4 separate regions of the Homo sapiens genome follow, and regions 1, 3 and 4 are each linked to region 2. The links come from fine-mapping of genetic effects on gene expression. A gene starts in region 2. Each other region holds a variant in brackets. All regions are shown on one strand. Distances are from middle to middle.

Region 1 (4,220 bases), 25 kb before region 2:
GGGTGTGGTGGCACCTGCCTGTAATCCCAGCTACTCGGGAGGCTGAGGCAGGAGAATCACCCGAACCCAGGAAGCAGAGGTTGCAGTGAGCCGAGATTGTGCCACTGCACTCCAGCCTGGGCAACAGAGTGAGACTCCATCTCAAAAAAAAAGAAAAAAAAAAAGCACACTGAAGTTTTCAAGTTACTTTTTATTTTTTTTGAGACAGGTCTCGCTCTGTTGCCCAGGCTGGAGTATAGTGGCACGATCATGGCTCACTCTGCAACGCAACCTCAACCTCCTGGGCCTAAGTGATCCTCCCACCTCAGCCTCCTGAATAGCTGGGACCGCAGGCACATGCCACCACGTCCAGCTAACTTTTTTATTTTGGGTGGAGACAGGGGTCTCCCTATGTTGCCCAGGCTGGTCTCAAACTCATGACCTCAAGCAATCCTCCTGCCTTGGCCTCCCAAAGTGCTGCAATTACAGCCATGAGCCACTGTGCTCAACCAACAATTTACTCTTAAATGTTGCTATATATACATATATATATCACACATACATATTTATGGATAGAGAATGTTAAGACAAAAATGGAAACCATCAGTGACTCTGGATAAAGGATTGTAGGAATTCCTTCCATTGTTCTTGTAATTTTTCTGCAACATTGAAATTATATCAGATTAAAAGGCCCTCCTCCAACAAAGCAAACAAACCTATGAGTGTGGCCAGGAATCAGGCAACACTTTGGCAAGAGCAACCGGGAGGCCTGTGCTTCCTGCTGGGGCCAGAGCCAGCCCCAAATACGTCCACCCAGGGCCTGCAGGAGGGCATGAATAGCGACCCTGTAGGGTAGGCCTGGTTGGCAAGAGCACGTATTATGCAAATTCTGTCAACAACTAGACCACAAGCTGGGTTGCAGTTCCTGGCAGAACTCATTATGTCCTTAGAGCAGAGAGGCCTTACAGCTGTTTCGTGTTAGATGATTCACAGACAACGTGCAGCAAACCGAAGAATCATTGGTGAATGTGTGAATTGCATTTGCATTTCATCTCTTTTCATAAAAATTATTGTTTAAGTCTGCTTTTGTTACAGCTCACTAATAAATGGAGTGTATTTGCATTTTTGCAAGGAGGCCTGAATTTTTAACACCTAATCATCTTTACCAAAGAGCAAGAATCGGCTAAAGTTTTCCCATTTAGTAAGAGTAGTAATTAAGACATACACCTTCCCTAAGCAATTCCTTTTCAAAAAGGAGCACACATTTAAAGATAACTCATTAATATCTCTTCTGAGGCTGTTTATCCAGTTTTGTCATGGCTCTAGAGCACAGGAATCTTTTTTTCTCCTCCATCTCTTTTTTAGCCAGTCTCTGAGAATCTCTGAGTTGCTAAGTATTATTTATTTCTTCCATTTTACCCCCAGGAGCTTAGCCATTTTTGATTTTTTGGCTTCGTTTTTTGAGCAACTTGAATGTCCCACACATCAAAGGCCAATTAGCTAAAAGACAGGCTTCTTCACACAACCCCTAGTTGATATCAACCTGTCTTTTTCTCAAAGCAACAGGAAGCCAGGTGGCCAGCTCTAAAACCAATCCCACCACATAACGTTTTTCCTAACCTCTGACTTACACCTCCGGGTTATGCCTGGTTAACCTTCTCGTTTTCCTCCTGGGGCCAAGAGTGAGCTGCTGAGGAGTGAAACAGACAAAGATTCACGTTCCTCTCCGGCCGCCTATGGGGAGCAGTTTCCAAACTCCCATCCCGGATCACGCAGGGGCGGGGCAGTGCTAGCCTGGGGAGCACCTGGCCGACATGACTGAAGAGGCCCTGCCCCAGAAAGGCCTCAAAAACACTCGTTAAAGCTAGGGCTGAGTCATCTGGGTGTGGAGGCTGTCGGGTCACATTCTTGAAACATAACAGGCAAACAGGACAGGCAGAGAACATCTAGACTGTGGATTCTGTAAAGCTTTTTCAAGGCCAGTTCACAGAAGCATTCCCTACTCTGTGAGCGTGAAATATAAAGGTGAATGCAGCCCCAGTGCCAGCACATAAGGCCAGTCAGTGCTATACAGGGTCAGCTTAGCCCTGGGCTGACCCTTAAGATCAGGAAAAAGTTATGGGGCAGTGACTTCTCAGCAAGTCTTTTCCATGTTTCTGGTGTCTTCGAATTCCTAGCTGAACAGAATTTATCAAAGCAGAAGGTAGCTGTTTATACCCCAGTTTACCCAGGCAAAGAGAAATGCTTTGGAATTGAGATATTTTCAGGGCATGAGTGGTTTAGATCTCTGAAACTGGAAGACGAAAATCCAGGTTATTAGAGATCAGCAGCACCTGAGAGGCAGGCTTCCTGGCACCTGAAGACTCACAGACAAGCCTTGGTAGCCTGGCTTGTTTTCCTTGCAGTTCAAAACCATTTCTTTGAGGTCATGATCTGAAAGGGGACACTGGACCCTGAGACCTAAATTCTGGTCCCTATGAGTAAATGCTTCAGACAGATCAAGTTGGGGAGCTTCCACTGAAAAACACTGAGACTAACACCCTGGTGTGACAGCCACACCTGTCTCCAAAGTGTACACACCACCCCACCAGGACATCACCAACCTGACATTTAATTAGCAA[T/C]GAGACACTTGTTTTCACTCCTGTGGTCAAAGAATGGGGAAATAGATGCTTTCTGTCTCCTTGCCTTTGGTTATTTTTCTCCTACTTCCTGAGCTGGGCTGGGAGCAACAGAAAAGAGAAGGAAGGAGAAACCCAGCAAGGCAAGAGCAGCTCCTTCCCTTCTTTGACACATTTATGTTCTGCTCCTATAGTGGTGGAAGCAGGAAGTAGGGTGACTGGCCTGCTCCACTCACATTCTGATCATTTTCTCTACAAGGCAAGGATGGCTAGCACCTCCAGTTGTGTGGAATGCTTCTATCAGGGGCCTGTGTACGGTATCATTGACATCTGGAATGTCTCATTCAAGCAATGAGGGCCACGTGTGGTTGTGGATGGTGAGATAAAAATTCATCTTTGCCTCTGGAAAAACAGTCAGAAGGCATGCCTTCCTGAAGGCGGGCATATCCTCTCTAAATCCAGCATATTGTATAGCATTATGGAATAGAGCAGAAAAGAAACCTAACATTTGGCTGGGGGCTGGCTAACTGTACTGGAAATTTTAGCTATCTTCTCAATCTGCCACCAACTCTGAGGCAGATGGCCTTGTACCCGTTTTACAGACAAGGCAACTGGGGCTGTGGATTTGGCAAGGCGCTAGTTGCAGGACCTCAGGTAACTGGCAGAGTTAGGATGTGAACCTAGGTTGCTATCTACTCATCAAGCCTGTGTGTTCTCCATGGGACCAGGCATGCTGTGCTTGACTTTTCCACTGGTTCGACATTCAGGTCATTTGTTCATCCCTGGTCACCTACCACTTCTTCAGTTTTCCATGATTTCTTGAAGACTGCCAGGAGTGATTGTGAGGTCACTGGTGATTTGAATTTCATCTTTTTAATACATTTGATTTGAATTTTATATTTAAATATACTTGGATTTGATTTAAAAATTTTTTTTAACTATAATTAAAAACAGCCTAGGTATGGTGGCTCATGCCTATAATCCCAACACTTTGGGAGGCTGAGGTGGGAGGATCACTTGAGCCCAGGAGTTCAGGACCAGCCTGAGCAATGTAGGGAGTCCCTATCTCCATTATTTTTATTATTTTATTATTTTTATTTTTTAAAACTAGAGATGGGGGTCTCACTGTATTGGCCAGGCTGGTCTCAAACTCTTGGGCTCATGTGATCCTCCTGCCTCAGCCTCCCGAAGTGCTGGGATTATAGGAGTATGCCACTGCACCCAGCCTCCATTAAAAAAAATTTTTTTTCTTTAACCTGGTGGTTCATGCCTGTAATCCGAGTACTTGGGGAGGCCAAGGCGGGTGGATCACTTGCGGTCAGGAGTTCAAGACCAGCCTGGCCAACATGGTGAAATTCCTCTCTACTAAAAAAAAAAAAAAAATACAAAAATTAGCCAGGCATGGTGGCAGACACCTGTAATCCCAGCTACTTGGGAGGCTGAAGCAGGAGAATCACTTGAACCTGGGAGGCTTAAGAGACTCTGTCTCAAAAGAATAAACAAAAATGAAAATAAAAAAATTTAAAAACCTATAACTGAAAACACAATGTGTTGCTGTGCTAGGTACCAAATTATAATAATGCTGGCACATAACTTTTGCTGGCAGTCTTTTGAGCAAATCTT
Region 2 (4,220 bases):
CAGGGTGGTGGTGCATGCCTGTAATCCCAGCTACTGGGGAGGCTGAGGCAGGAGGAGAATCACTTGAACCTGGGAGTGGAGGTTGCGGTGAGCCGAGCAAAACTCCGTCTCAAAAAAATAAAATAAATAAATAAATAATCGGCTCTGCTTTCTTCTCCAATTACTGTCTTTCTTTCTCTTTTCTGCTTATCCTTAAAGACTTTCCCTTTTTGTTCTCATCTTCATCTCCTACTCTCTTCTGGCTCTAACTGAAGTTCTCACGCAGCTTCCCTCCTGACCTTCTGGACAGCCACCTGCTTTCCCAAGTTTCCTCCTTTCCCTCCTGTGGAGATGCCTCTCTTAGAATCCTTGCTTTTATCAGCGGCTTACAATCTCTGCATCCGTAGAAACCAGACAGCCTTTTTGTTTGAGGGCTAACACTTGCCTTGTCCCTATTTCAAATAACACAGTGAGCTGTACATAGAAGTTACTCAATGATATCTTAATTGATTTTATTGGGTTCCTTTTTACGCTTATCTTAGAAAAGGGATGTGACTTTGGATTGGGTAATAAAGAGCCGTTTATTGCATGTGTACAAATTATAAATTCCCAGGCACACCCTGATCATAGCAGGATCCTTTTGTTAGCTTTATGGGGCATGAAGTTGGCACCAAAGTATTCATGGGGATGTACAAGTAAGGAAGGGAAGCCAAAAGCATGTCTGATCATACAATCAGGTGTAAGCAAGCCCCCTAAGTAGCCAGGGCATGAACTTTGTCTATCTCTGAAATGACCAGAAGAAAAGGCAAGAGTGTGATTCATCCCTTGCCTCCACAGCAATTCATTTGGCTATCTACTTTTCTTATTACCAATGGCTAACCCTCTAAGGGTACCACTCCTGGCCATGAGGCCTCATGACTCAAAGTCTTAAGATTTATAGCATTTTCCCTGGAGACCAAGGGCATTCCTTTGGGTGATACCTTTTTACTACCCAGAGGTTAGTCATTTACTATGGGTGATCCATTCAAATAAATTGGTTGCCAGGCTACCTCTTCAGATAAGAGTTCAAACTTGCATAAATAATCCCCAGCCACACTGTGACTTCTATGTGCAAGCCTAGAGGGGACGATGTTGCAGGAACCGTGCCAACCACTAAGACACTTTCAAGTTTATCCTAGAGAATGCCAAGACAGCTTCTCAATTCCATCAAGTGAGTCCTTCACAGGAACATTTCCCTAAGTTGAAAAACTGCAGGAAATAATTTATCTTTATGTTATTAATTGGTTACTATAAGGGCTACAGGAATTATTTAGGAACCAGATGATACCTGGTTTTCTCCATAGTTTACATAAGCCAGTCCCTGCAAAGATTCTTCCCCTACCCCCCTTAATTTTTTTTTTTTTCCTCAGAGATCCTTGTTCCAACCTGCAAGGATTCTTTGGCCTGGTGCTTTTCCAGGTAAAGTGTAAGAGCCAGGATTTCTGGATTTTGTTCCTAGACATGAGTGAGCTTGGATAAGTAAATCATTTTCTCTTTTAGTCTGTTTGGGCTTCTGTAACAAAATATCATAAACTGGGTAGCTTATAGGCAATATACATTTATTTCCCACAGTTCTGAAGGTCGGGAAATCCAAGATCCAGGCCAGCAGATTTGATGTCTGGTGAGGGCCTGCTTTCTGGTTCACAGAGGGAGCCTTCTGGCTGTGTCTTCACAAGGTGGAAGTGGCAAGGGGTCTCTCTCCGGCCTCTTTTATTAGGGCACCAATCTCATTCATAAGGACCCTGCCCCTATGACCTAATCACTTCCCAAGGCCTCCACTTCCTAATACATCACCGTGAGGGTTAGGATTTCAACATATGAACTTTGGCGGGATATAAACATTCAGACTATAGCACCCTGACAGTAAAAATGAGATAATAATACTTATCTCTTTCTTCCAACAAAAAGATAAGGTGAAGTTAAAAGGAGGGTATATATATATATAATGTGAATTTCCTGTGTAAAATGTGTTAAAGAGTTGTCTGATTAATTGCTTTATAAGGGAATTGCTTTGAGACTAGGCCTATTGATCTAGAATAAGTAGTCAATTTGTAGTCAGTTCCCTAGGGAATAGACATTGAAAAGATTTTTGGTTTTGTATTCTACAAATAAAGCAACCTATTAATTGAATTCCTCTCAGCGAATTCTTCACTCAGGTGATTCTGGAGAGGGCGGGGGACAGACGCGGCCGCAGCCCAGGTCCCGGGAGCGCCACGGAACCTAACGGTGGCAGCGGAGGTCGCGCCCCTCAGTGCCCGCGCTCTCCCCGTCGGGAGCTTCCTGGTCGCCCCTGCGGCGGCGGCTCGGGGTGTCTGGCCGGCGCGGGGCTCGCCCAGCCTGGTCCGGGGAGAGGACTGGCTGGGCAGGGGCGCCGCCCCGCCTCGGGAGAGGCGGGCCGGGCGGGGCTGGGAGTATTTGAGGCTCGGAGCCACCGCCCCGCCGGCGCCCGCAGCACCTCCTCGCCAGCAGCCGTCCGGAGCCAGCCAACGAGCGGTGAGCTGCGCGGGGCGCGGGGGACGCGGCTCCGGCCGGGCAGGGGAGAGGGCGCCCGGGCGCTGCTTGGGGCGCGGTCCGGAGAGGGTTCGGCTCCCCGGGACCGGGCCGGGGCGCGCGCGGAGAGCCCCACAGCCTGTGCTCTGCCCTCCAGGAGCGGGGCGGCGGGCAGCGATCTGGGCCCGGGGCAGTCGCCTTTGATTATCGAGGGCGCTGGCGTTCGGGGAAGGTTGGCAGCACCTTACGAGACCCACACACGTCCCCGGGGCGGCACGGGCCACCTTCTGCGGAGCCTCGTGGGCTTCGCCGCCGTCGCACCTCCGCCGCCTGCGCTCTGCGGCCCCAGAGTAAGCCCCATCCGGTGACGAGCCGCAGTCTGGTCACCCCAGTCCCACCAGGTCCCGCTGCGAGGGGAGGCGGAGGGGCTCGCTCAGCAAACCAGACGGCCGCTCCAGTTTCTCTAATTGGGGTTGGAGCCCCGTCACCCTTCCCCAGATCACGGCCGCGGGGGAGCGAAGGGACTTCCCAGGACTGCATAGGGCGCCTCCCGGGACCCACAGCTTGGCTGGCCCGGCCCCTTTTGAGCATCAGCTGAGGCTGGACTTGGAGGAGATCTCGCTGTGGAGCGCGAATGAGTTCTTCCACCGGGACCAGCTGCGGCCGGGCTGCAGCCGCTGTCTGGTTGCTGATCCCACAGAAAATGGTGCTTGCCCCATGGCCTGAGTGGGCATGACCCGGCTTTGCAAAGACTGCAAACTCTAAGCTTTTCCGAATCAAATGCCCCTCCCTGCCCAGACTGTCTGTGCCCAGGAAATGGTGGGTGTGGCAAAATGTTGGTCCTAGCGTGCAGAGCCCTACCGGGGGGCTTTCACAACATGTTTGAGAGTTTATTCTGAATTATCGGGTGCTCAAATAGAAACACTAAAACGATTGCCCTCTGAGCAGTAGGCGTTCAGGTCCAGGGAGTCGGGGACGCATGGTGGAGGCTGGGACTTAGGTTTCAGCCTTACCCTTCAAGTTCGCCATGCGGGTTCCAGAGACTGCGGAATGTTTGTAAAGTGACTCTGGGAATTGGGTTGCTGCGCAATGAGGACACCTGGACCTCAGTGACTCAGGCTGTCTCTAGGATTCTGGGGAAGAAATGGGAGAAGGCTCAGTTAATTCTGAAGAAAATGAGACTGATACAATTAACTACTTGGGCACAGGGCCTGAGAAGAAAAAGCTTTCGTCAGCTTCCAAAGTTCTGATTTGTTTACCTAAGGTTTTTTTTTTTTTTGAGACGCAGTTTCGCTCTTGTTGCCCAGGCTGGAGTGCAACGGCACTATCTCGGCTCACCGCAACCTCTGCCTACCGGGTTCAAGCGATTCTCCTGCCTCAGCCTCCCGAGTAGCTGGGATTACAGGCATGCGCCACCATGCCCGGCTAATTTTGTATTTTTCGTGGTGGTGGTGGTGGGGGGGGGGGGGTCCCTCCATGTTGGTCAGGCTGGTCTCGAACCCCCGACCTCAGGTGACCCGCCTGCCTCGGCCTCCTAAAGTGCTGGGATTATAGGCGTGGGCCACTGCGCCTGGCCTACCTCAAGTTTATAAACATTTCATACTAGGAAATTGTGTGTTTCCATAAAAGGTAAAGTTGAATAATGATCATTTACTTTTCTACAACAATAGTCTCCCTTTTAGACATTGACTCTCAATCCTTAGGGTAGGGTC
Region 3 (4,220 bases), 590 kb after region 2:
TGTCATGTGAAAGAAAAAATGGGCTTTGTCTCATAAATTACATCCCATTAAATTCCAAGTATTTCTGAGAATTCAGGAAGAGGAACAGAGTAAGTTCTGTTTGTTCATGACTGAATAATTGCTAATTGGTTATTCATTTTAAAACACACAGAGAATTACATTTAATGCTGTTGTCTTCATCTGGAAAGAGATTTGTTTTGTTTGATAGAGCATAAGCTGTGACATCTTGGGGAAGTACAAATGACTTGGTCCTACCTGAAATTCACAGATTTGAAATTTTACAATTTCCTTTAGGTGAGAAATCAAATAATAGGTACTAAATTACCTTTCTAATTTATTGGTCCCATAACATTGCAAAAGTACCTCTCAGGCCTGATGGAGCCCTCCTGTTCCATCCACGGGGACTTTTTTCTCTCCCTGAAGACGGGCAGGAGTTCCTTCTCTTTCCTCCACCCTATGACACTTCCTAAAAACACTCTGTTCCATAAACTGTCTTTCTTGGTTTATTAAAAAAAAAAATCGGTGGTACAATGAGGTTCAATATGCAGAATCTGGCATGCGTAGCTTGTGTTGAAGGGCTGACACAGTTGAAATAATGAATTTCATTTATAAAAGGAATGCAGTTGACTACTAATAGTTTGAGTTTTCTTCAATTAGTGATGATGAATTTCCCATTCACTCATTCAGTAAATATCAGTTGATCATATTCTCTATGTTCCAATCTTACCCTATCCTTCTGATCTTTCTTTATCTGCTCAAGAACTTTCCTGCTGTTTAATTATCTGCTGCTAGGGAGATGGTGAGTGTAATCATGGATGAGAATAAAACAATATGAATGAACCTCTGGTTCTTAGCACAGTCCTTTAACCTATAGAGCAATTGTATTAGCCATCATTTCCTTTTTCTGGTAAGTGAGATTTCAAAATAATAACTGTATATTATAGCCATCCTGAGGAGTTTAAGAACATGGCCTCCAAAATACAATATCCTGAGATTGAATCCTAACTCTGCCACTTACTGTACAGGAGACCTTGGGCAAGACACTTCACCTCAGGGTGTCTCAGTTCTCTCACCTGCGAAATGGGATAATAATGTAACCCACCTTTTAGGGTTAGTGTGAGGATTAAATGAGATAATCCTAAAAAGTTCATAAAATAGGAAGTGGCACAGGGTAAATTCTCAGTAAATGTGAGCCATAATTATAATTGTAATCATTTTTTGATCTCTTTAATTTTTCTTAGTTATCATAGAAAATACAGCTGTGAAGAGTGATCATTGCATATAAATAATGACAATAACCTTTGGACTTACCTGATTCTTGTCTAAAAGCCTGCTGTGAAAGATGTTGTCCTGGGGCATAGTATACTGTTCTTCCTTCTCTCCCACATGCGGGAAAGGAAGCGCATAGCAATGAGATGGTAGATTACAGTGGAAGTCAGGAGACACAAAGTTGGGTGTTACACCTTCTTGATTATGGAACAACTCTGGGTGAATTCTTCAGTTACTTGCAGGTTACCTTTTCCTACATACAAAATTAAACTGTCAGAAACTACAGTTTGTGGCAGTGAGAGCCTTGAGACATGTACGTATCGTGGCTTATTATATATTTTCAAGAATTTTGTGTATAATGTGGTGCAAGTGAGCAAAAGCACACATCCTTGTGAGCCCACTGGGTTCCATGGAAGTCTTTTCTTTAACATGTTAAAAAAAACCCCAAAATACTGTCATTTATTGAGCCTCTAGTATGTGGTTCTATATATTTATTATCTCATTTATCCTTCAGGGCAATTTGATGACTAACTTGTATTGTTCTCATTTTTCAGATAAGGAATCTGAGCCTCCAAGAGTTGTAGTGACATGTTCAAGCCACATGGTTAGTGAGAAGCAGAGAAAGGACCTAAGGTCAGAGCAATCTTAAGCAGGTCCTCTGTGGTCATGGTTAGTGTGGTTTGCTTCCAGGCCAGACCATTTCCTTGCTGATGCAAGATTCTCCAGAGCTCTCCTTTTCCCCCGGGAAGTGGTGATTGGCTGCTCCATCAGCCTGTGTCCTTGAGTGACTGTGCTGGGCAGAATGCCCTGCCAGCCTGAGAGGGACCTGTGGTGTAGAACATGAAATAAAAACCTTTGTGGTTTTCAGTTATTGAGATCTGGGGGTTCTTTGTTACTGCACCATAACCTGGCAGATCTTAAACACAAAATCTTAATGATCTGTACACAGATTGAATACTTGGTGCCCATTTCAAACATTTTTAGAATAGGAAGGAAAACCCAGAATCCAAGAAAGCAAAGTCTTGAATTCTAAATTCTCGTGTCTTTATTGACAGTTTGGTAAAACAAGCAAACAAACAAAAACACACATTAAAAAAAAACAAAAACAAAAATTAGTCTTAAGGAGTTGTCTTTCAACCATGCAAATAATCATAAGAATCGTTGTCTTAGTTTTCACAGCTTATCAGAGGACTCTTCACCTTCATTTCTCTTGGTACTGTATCTATGTGGCCTGAGGAGGAATCATGGCTATAACGTGGTTTCTGCCTGTGCAAGCAGATTGAATTTATTTCTGTCTGAGCCCATCCCTA[T/A]CTGTCATCCAATTATCATCAATAAATATTTAAATGTCAGGCCAGCAGCCCCAGAAGGGAGCCCTGGGTATTAGGCCTTTGCGAGTCCCAGCTGATCGTTATTAATTCAATGAATGTAGTTGTAAATTGGCTAAGAATACACAATGGAAGCGATTACAAGTGCTCTTGTCAGTGTGGGCTCATTCCATTGAAAGATGGTTCAGATTTGCTTTTGCCTCATTCCAAGGAAATATGAGATGCAATTTGCTTCAAACTAAATGCTCGCTTAGTTTCTTGCCCAAATGTTAAACAAGAATAAGGCAGGTTGGAAGGACCATCTCTGGAATGTATTGTTCTGAATGACTTAGAGGTTTGCAGGGCCACTTTTTGAGCTAATGTAAATTGGCAGGAAAATGCTTTCCATTGAGATGAATTATGTGCTCAGGGTTACCTGTTTTTTTATCTGAGTTAGAGAAGTCAGAGTAGATAAAAATGAAATGACCCATTATCAAATAATCAATGAAAAAGCTACACTCCTGCAATGTTTCTGGATCAATATACAAGTTACCTTTCAGATAGATGAATTGTCCTTGTGTTGTTCAGAGCAGAACAAAGCCCGCCTCCAGCCAGTCTCCCCAAATGCACTCTGTGTGAAAACATAAAGCATTAAACCATCAGGGACAAAAAAGTGGGGTGCTGTCCACATGGCAGCCCTTCCCAAACGGTGCTCAATGAGACTATTCTTGGGAATGTGTTTGGTACACACGGATCTGAGGCACAGCTGTTGCAGGTTAAGGGCGAGGTGTAGAAGAGGTTCTGGGGACACAGCATGTTCATTCCCCAAGGGCAGGAGCATCAATCAGCAAGAACTTCCCGAAAGATATATTTCACATGATCTATCAAAATTTAAATTGCTCTACACTTTGTCCTAGCAATCCAATTTTAAGAATTCATCCTGCAAATTGTAGCTACACATGTATGCCAAGATCTTTGTGAGAGGATGTTTCTTGTTTGTGATGGTAAAAACATAATCACAAGTTGAAAATGTCCATCACAATGGGAATGGTTAGGTAAACTGTAATATATCAACACTGTCAAGTACTATCAGCTGTTAAAAGGTAGATATGTATATGCTAACATGTGATCTTGGGAACTTATTTAATCTCTCATGAATAACTCATGACTCCCACCGCCTTCTTCCATTCTAAGACCATTCCATGTCTTATTCAGCCCTGAATATTCAATATCTAACATAGGGCCTGACTCCATAATGCTAATTACATTTGATTAAATATTTGCTAAAAAAATTGAGGGTGCTGACAGAGATCCCCCTTGCCTTATGTTTTACTTATCCAATTTGTAAAATAGGGATAATAATAGTATTTAATAAGTATTAGCTGAGTGACAGATAAAATGAAAGGGGTGTGTGTGTGTGTGTGTGCATGTACGTATATATACAATGTTTTATTTTTGGAGAGACTAAACTCTAGAAAAGTAAGTGAAAAACTCATAGACAGAGCTAAGCAAAGAATCCCAAGATCCTCACCTGGGAGTGTGAGATGGGAAGATGAAAGAGGAGGAAAAGTAGCCTGTCCTGCACGTGCAGACTACTGTGTGCAGAGCTATCTGTTATATGCTTTTCACAGTTGTTTCATTTAAAAC
Region 4 (4,000 bases), 240 kb after region 2:
TCACTAAAAGAATGACAAGACACGTGAGCTGAAAATGATCTCCTGCTGAGGGAAATTCTTTTTTTTTTTGAGACGGAGTTTCGCTCTTGTTGCCCAGGCTGGAGTGCAATGGCACAATCTCGGCTCACTGCAACCTCTGCCTCCCGGTTCAAGCGATTCTCCTGCCGCAGCCTCCCGAGTAGCTGGGATTACAGGCGTGCGCCACCACACCCGGTAATTTTTTGTATTTTTAGTAGAAACAGGGTTTCACCATGTTAGCCAGGCTGCTCTCAAACTCCTGACCTCAAGTGATCCGCCTGCCTCGGCCTCCTAAAGTGCTGGGATTACAGGCGTGAGCCACTGCGCCTGGCTGGGAAATTCTTTCTTTATATTGTGCTTTCCCCAGAACAGAGCAGAGTAGCATCAGCCGTAAGGATCTGCGCTGCATTTCTGAGCAAAGCTGTGTCCTCAGAGCAACAAAGAGTTCGGGGAAACAAGTAGGATGGTTTCCCCTGAAAACACCTGCCACCTACTCAATCCCATAGAAAGAAAGTGGACACCACAAGAATGACCAGAGGCCACTTAACTAAGTGGCTTTTCCCCTGTGCCCAGGCAGGCATTGAGCTTACATAAGGGAATGACCTTCATGACTTATTTTCACCCAGAAAATATAAGTTCAATTTCAAAATGCTCATAGTGTGGATGGCAGGAATTCAACTAGGTAAGAATAAGCTTAATTCCCCTCAGAATACAAGAAAATAGTTAAAAACTCTCTAGACATTATTGCAGCCAGGATTTCTTCCATTTATGGATGTGGGTCCTAAAGAAAAAGACTTTCATTTTCTTTGGTGTGTGGGGGAAAGAAAAACAGGAATGTCTGACAAACTACGACAGAGCAGCATGAATAAAATACGTGTAACTCACCCCTCCCAAACAAAATCAAAGGACCAAATTAGAAATTTTAAATTGCCTGCTGGTTCTCATACAAAAAACAATGGCAGAAAAACTCTTATTAAAGAGCTTTTATCTTTCATGTCCTAATAATCAAGAATCACCTCTTGTGATTCAACCAACCTCTAAAACTTAAAGTGTCAGGAACAGTCTCAGCACCGCAAGGACCAGCACACTGACCCATATCTGTGGGCCCGGTGGCCCGGGCCCAGAGGGAACCCAAATCAACTGCTTCCTTGGCAGAACTGGCCACACGCACAGGTCCTCCTTCCACCAGCACTGGTCTGGGTAGAAAGACCTTCGACCCCTGTTCTCTTAATTATCATAAGCATGTTGGTCACCATCACAGGCCACTTGGCAAATAGAAATGTTTGTCTCCCTGCTTAAAAAGACAAAACAAAACAACACTTTAACCTCTTTGTTCCAGACACTATCTTAACTTAAACAGAAAATGTTTACTAGAGTGTAGTGGGAGAAGAACTTTCTTGATGCAGATTTGGTATGTTTTGGTCCATGCTCGTTAACGGTGTCCAGTGTAAGCTTTAAACCAGGAGGTCACCGAGGCTGCTGCAGAGGAGATCATCCCACCTGCACTGCTGCTCGCGATGGGTGGGGACGCCTGGGTGCTCTGACTCTGGGAGACTTCCACAGACTGGGAAGGGATATCACAAAACCGGGGACTAGGCAAGTTCTCCCAGTCTGTGCCCAGGTCGGTTTCTTCATCGCTGACGCGCTCATCTCCGCTCTCATCTGATTCTCCAGCAACTCCGGGATCCACAAATTCCATGGACTCCTCAAGGTCTGCTCGTACTTCAAAGGGCCCTGACCTGTGTGCAGACAATGAGGGTCTCTTTAGGATAACAACCATTCTCAACACCAGAAAATATGCCATCTTCCTGAAGGCCCTCACCTGAGGGGATGAGGGACGCCGCACACCCCATTCATTCCCCAAGTCTATGCAGCACTCCGTGTTGACATATGATTGCGTTTTCCTTTACCCAAATAATCTCCACCCAAGTTATAAATAAAATCATGATACCACACTTTCCCACAAGTCTGCCTACTTCATTGGTGATGACCGTGCATAGGAAAAAAACCTATTCACTGAGATGGCCCATGCTGGTCCTAAGTCTGACTTCCTGTTGTAAAGAACTGCAGTGTCTACGAAGTAAATACACGGCACTCCAATGAGACAATTCTAACAAAAAGCCACTTGATGTATACTC[T/C]GGATATTATTTAGTGTAATAAGTAATAAATGGTATACAAAGAAAACTCAGTGGGTTCCTGTACATATTTAAAAATATCACCACAATTTTCTAGGACACATTTCTAGCACAGAATGAGGCACAACTGTTTAGAATATATTCAGAGGCAATGTTGTATATTTCTGCACTGTATTTCAGGAGAAAACAATTTTTATTTCTCAAAGGTCCCTAATAACACCCTCACTGCCAAGTCCAATAACCCTTTCTTAGGCCTCATCCTCTTTGCTGGCACCTCAGCACAGGGAACCGAGTCAGCAAACCTCAGAAGCCTTTCTGCATTTCTTTTTTTTTTTATTTAGACAGAGTCTCGTTCTGTTGCCCAGGCTGGAGTGCAGTGGCGCCATCTTGGCTCCTGCAACCTCCACCGCCCAGGTGCAAGCGATTCTCCTGCCTCAACCTCCTGAGTAGCTGGGATTACAGGCACCTGCCACCATGCCCGGCTAATTTTTGTATTTTTAGTAGAGACGGGGTTTCACCACGTTGGCCAGGCTGGTCTTGAACTCCTGACCTCAAGTGATCCACCCACCCCTGCCTCTCAAAACGCTGAGATTACAGTTGTGAGCCACCACGCCCGGCCGCCTTTCTGCTTCTTTTTCCCCTCCCTTTCAAATGCCCCTCAGCTCCTGCTCCAGGGCAGCCAGGCTGCATGTCCTCCCTGTAGGCAGCCACCCCCACCCACTGCCTTCCAGGGAACTGCCCTGCAACCAGCTACAGGGTGGGACCAAGGTGCCGCTCTCTCCCTGCTGCTGCCCCCAAGATAAGCACACGATGCCTTGGTTCATTTAAGGGTTTCACTGATAACGACTTTGGGGAAAATAGGAGAGGTCGAAATAAATAGCAGGCAGAAATGAGAGCCTAGAATCGTATAGCTTGCCATTTCAGCCTATGGTCCCAAATTCTCCACAGCCTTCACAATGATGAATGGCTAGCACTGGCTTCCAACGCACCTCACCAGGTCTGCACCGTTGACTCACTTTTTACAGAAGCAAGCAGCCCTCATTCCTCCCAGACACCTGTGCTTCCCAGATGGATTAAGCAATAATAATAGCTAACATTTATGCTCCAGGGACTGTTTTTAGGGCTTTATTAAATTGGAAGATACGCCATGGGGTTTCCCACTTGGTCTCCAGTGAGCAATTTACATTTTCCAAGAGCCCCTCAGGCCGGGCGCGGTGGCTCACACCTGTAATCCCAGCACTTTGGGAGGCTGCGGCGGGCAGATCACGAGGTCAGGAGATCGAGACCATTGGCTAACACAGTGAAACCCTGTCTCTACTAAAAATACAAAAAATTAGCTGGGTGTGATGGCGGGCACCTGTAGTCCCGGCTACTCAGGAGGCTGAGGCAGGAGAACGGTGTGAACCCCAGAGGCGGAGCTTGCAGTGAGCCGAGATGGCGCCAGTGCACTCTAGCCTGGGCGACAGAGCGAGACTCTGTCTCAAAAAACAAACAAAAAAACAAAGAGCCCCTCAGACTAGGGGTGCTCTCAAGTTTACTAGGCCCCACCCTGCCCAGAAGTCAGTATTTTGCAAGGGTGAAAGGAGTAGGACTTTCTACTGCCCCTTGAATTTCTCTGCCAGCAAACTAATGGCCACTGCAGTTTTTAGCTCTGAGCACCCTCTTCTCAAGTTTCTCCTTGCACTTCATTTCTTTTCTCCCCTTTTTCTTTTCCTTGGCAAACAGTTCTACTCTAGAGCCATCTTTTCCGATTCCTCTCCTAGCGCCACTCCCAAATATCCTCTGGTTACTAAACCCTCAGGCTCATCTCACATATCTGAACCAGTCTCAAAACTTTAGCTGGCTGG

Which allele goes with the higher level. Positions count from the first base shown, and alleles are read on the strand shown. Sizes are in standard deviations (SD) of each study's normalised expression. Not every link is listed here.
As copies of T replace A in region 3, the expression in esophagus muscle of the gene that starts at base 2,463 in region 2 goes up (moderate effect, 0.58 SD a copy in GTEx).
In carriers of allele C in region 4, the expression in tibial artery of the gene that starts at base 2,463 in region 2 tends to be lower than with T alone (moderate effect, 0.55 SD a copy in GTEx).

The links. PIP is the estimated chance that this variant, and not a neighbour inherited with it, causes the effect. A credible set is the group of variants that fine-mapping cannot tell apart.
Region 1: its variant is the best candidate, but not a certain one, in a credible set for the expression of LGALS3 in nasal epithelium (TOPMed, PIP 0.63).
Region 3: its variant is the best candidate, but not a certain one, in a credible set for the expression of LGALS3 in esophagus muscle (GTEx, PIP 0.65).
Region 4: its variant is the best candidate, but not a certain one, in a credible set for the expression of LGALS3 in tibial artery (GTEx, PIP 0.89).

Annotation. Positions count from the first base shown.
Region 1 is chr14:55,101,531-55,105,750 of GRCh38, forward strand. LOC124903318 (a long non-coding RNA gene) reads right to left here and starts at 1,799. Exons shown (of 3, transcript XR_007064178.1): 1 at 1,611-1,799. RefSeq lists a cis regulatory region at 1,467-2,145 and an enhancer at 1,621-1,915. The variant T/C (reference allele first, on the strand shown) is at 2,601.
Region 2 is chr14:55,126,790-55,131,009 of GRCh38, forward strand. It overlaps LGALS3 (galectin 3), which reads left to right and starts at 2,463. Exons shown (of 6, transcript NM_002306.4): 1 at 2,463-2,511. RefSeq lists a silencer at 2,159-2,758 and an enhancer at 3,109-3,298.
Region 3 is chr14:55,719,600-55,723,819 of GRCh38, forward strand. It overlaps LOC124903320 (a long non-coding RNA gene), which reads left to right. Exons shown (of 2, transcript XR_007064179.1): 2 at 1,824-2,136. Among named protein-coding and RNA genes, the nearest start is that of LINC00520, 75 kb to the right of the region's middle. The variant T/A (reference allele first, on the strand shown) is at 2,580.
Region 4 is chr14:55,368,169-55,372,168 of GRCh38, forward strand. ATG14 (autophagy related 14) reads right to left here. Exons shown (of 10, transcript NM_014924.5): 10 at 1-1,757. The coding sequence ends at 1,451. It also overlaps a transcript of FBXO34 not described here. Among named protein-coding and RNA genes, the nearest start is that of ATG14, 42 kb to the right of the region's middle. The variant T/C (reference allele first, on the strand shown) is at 2,157.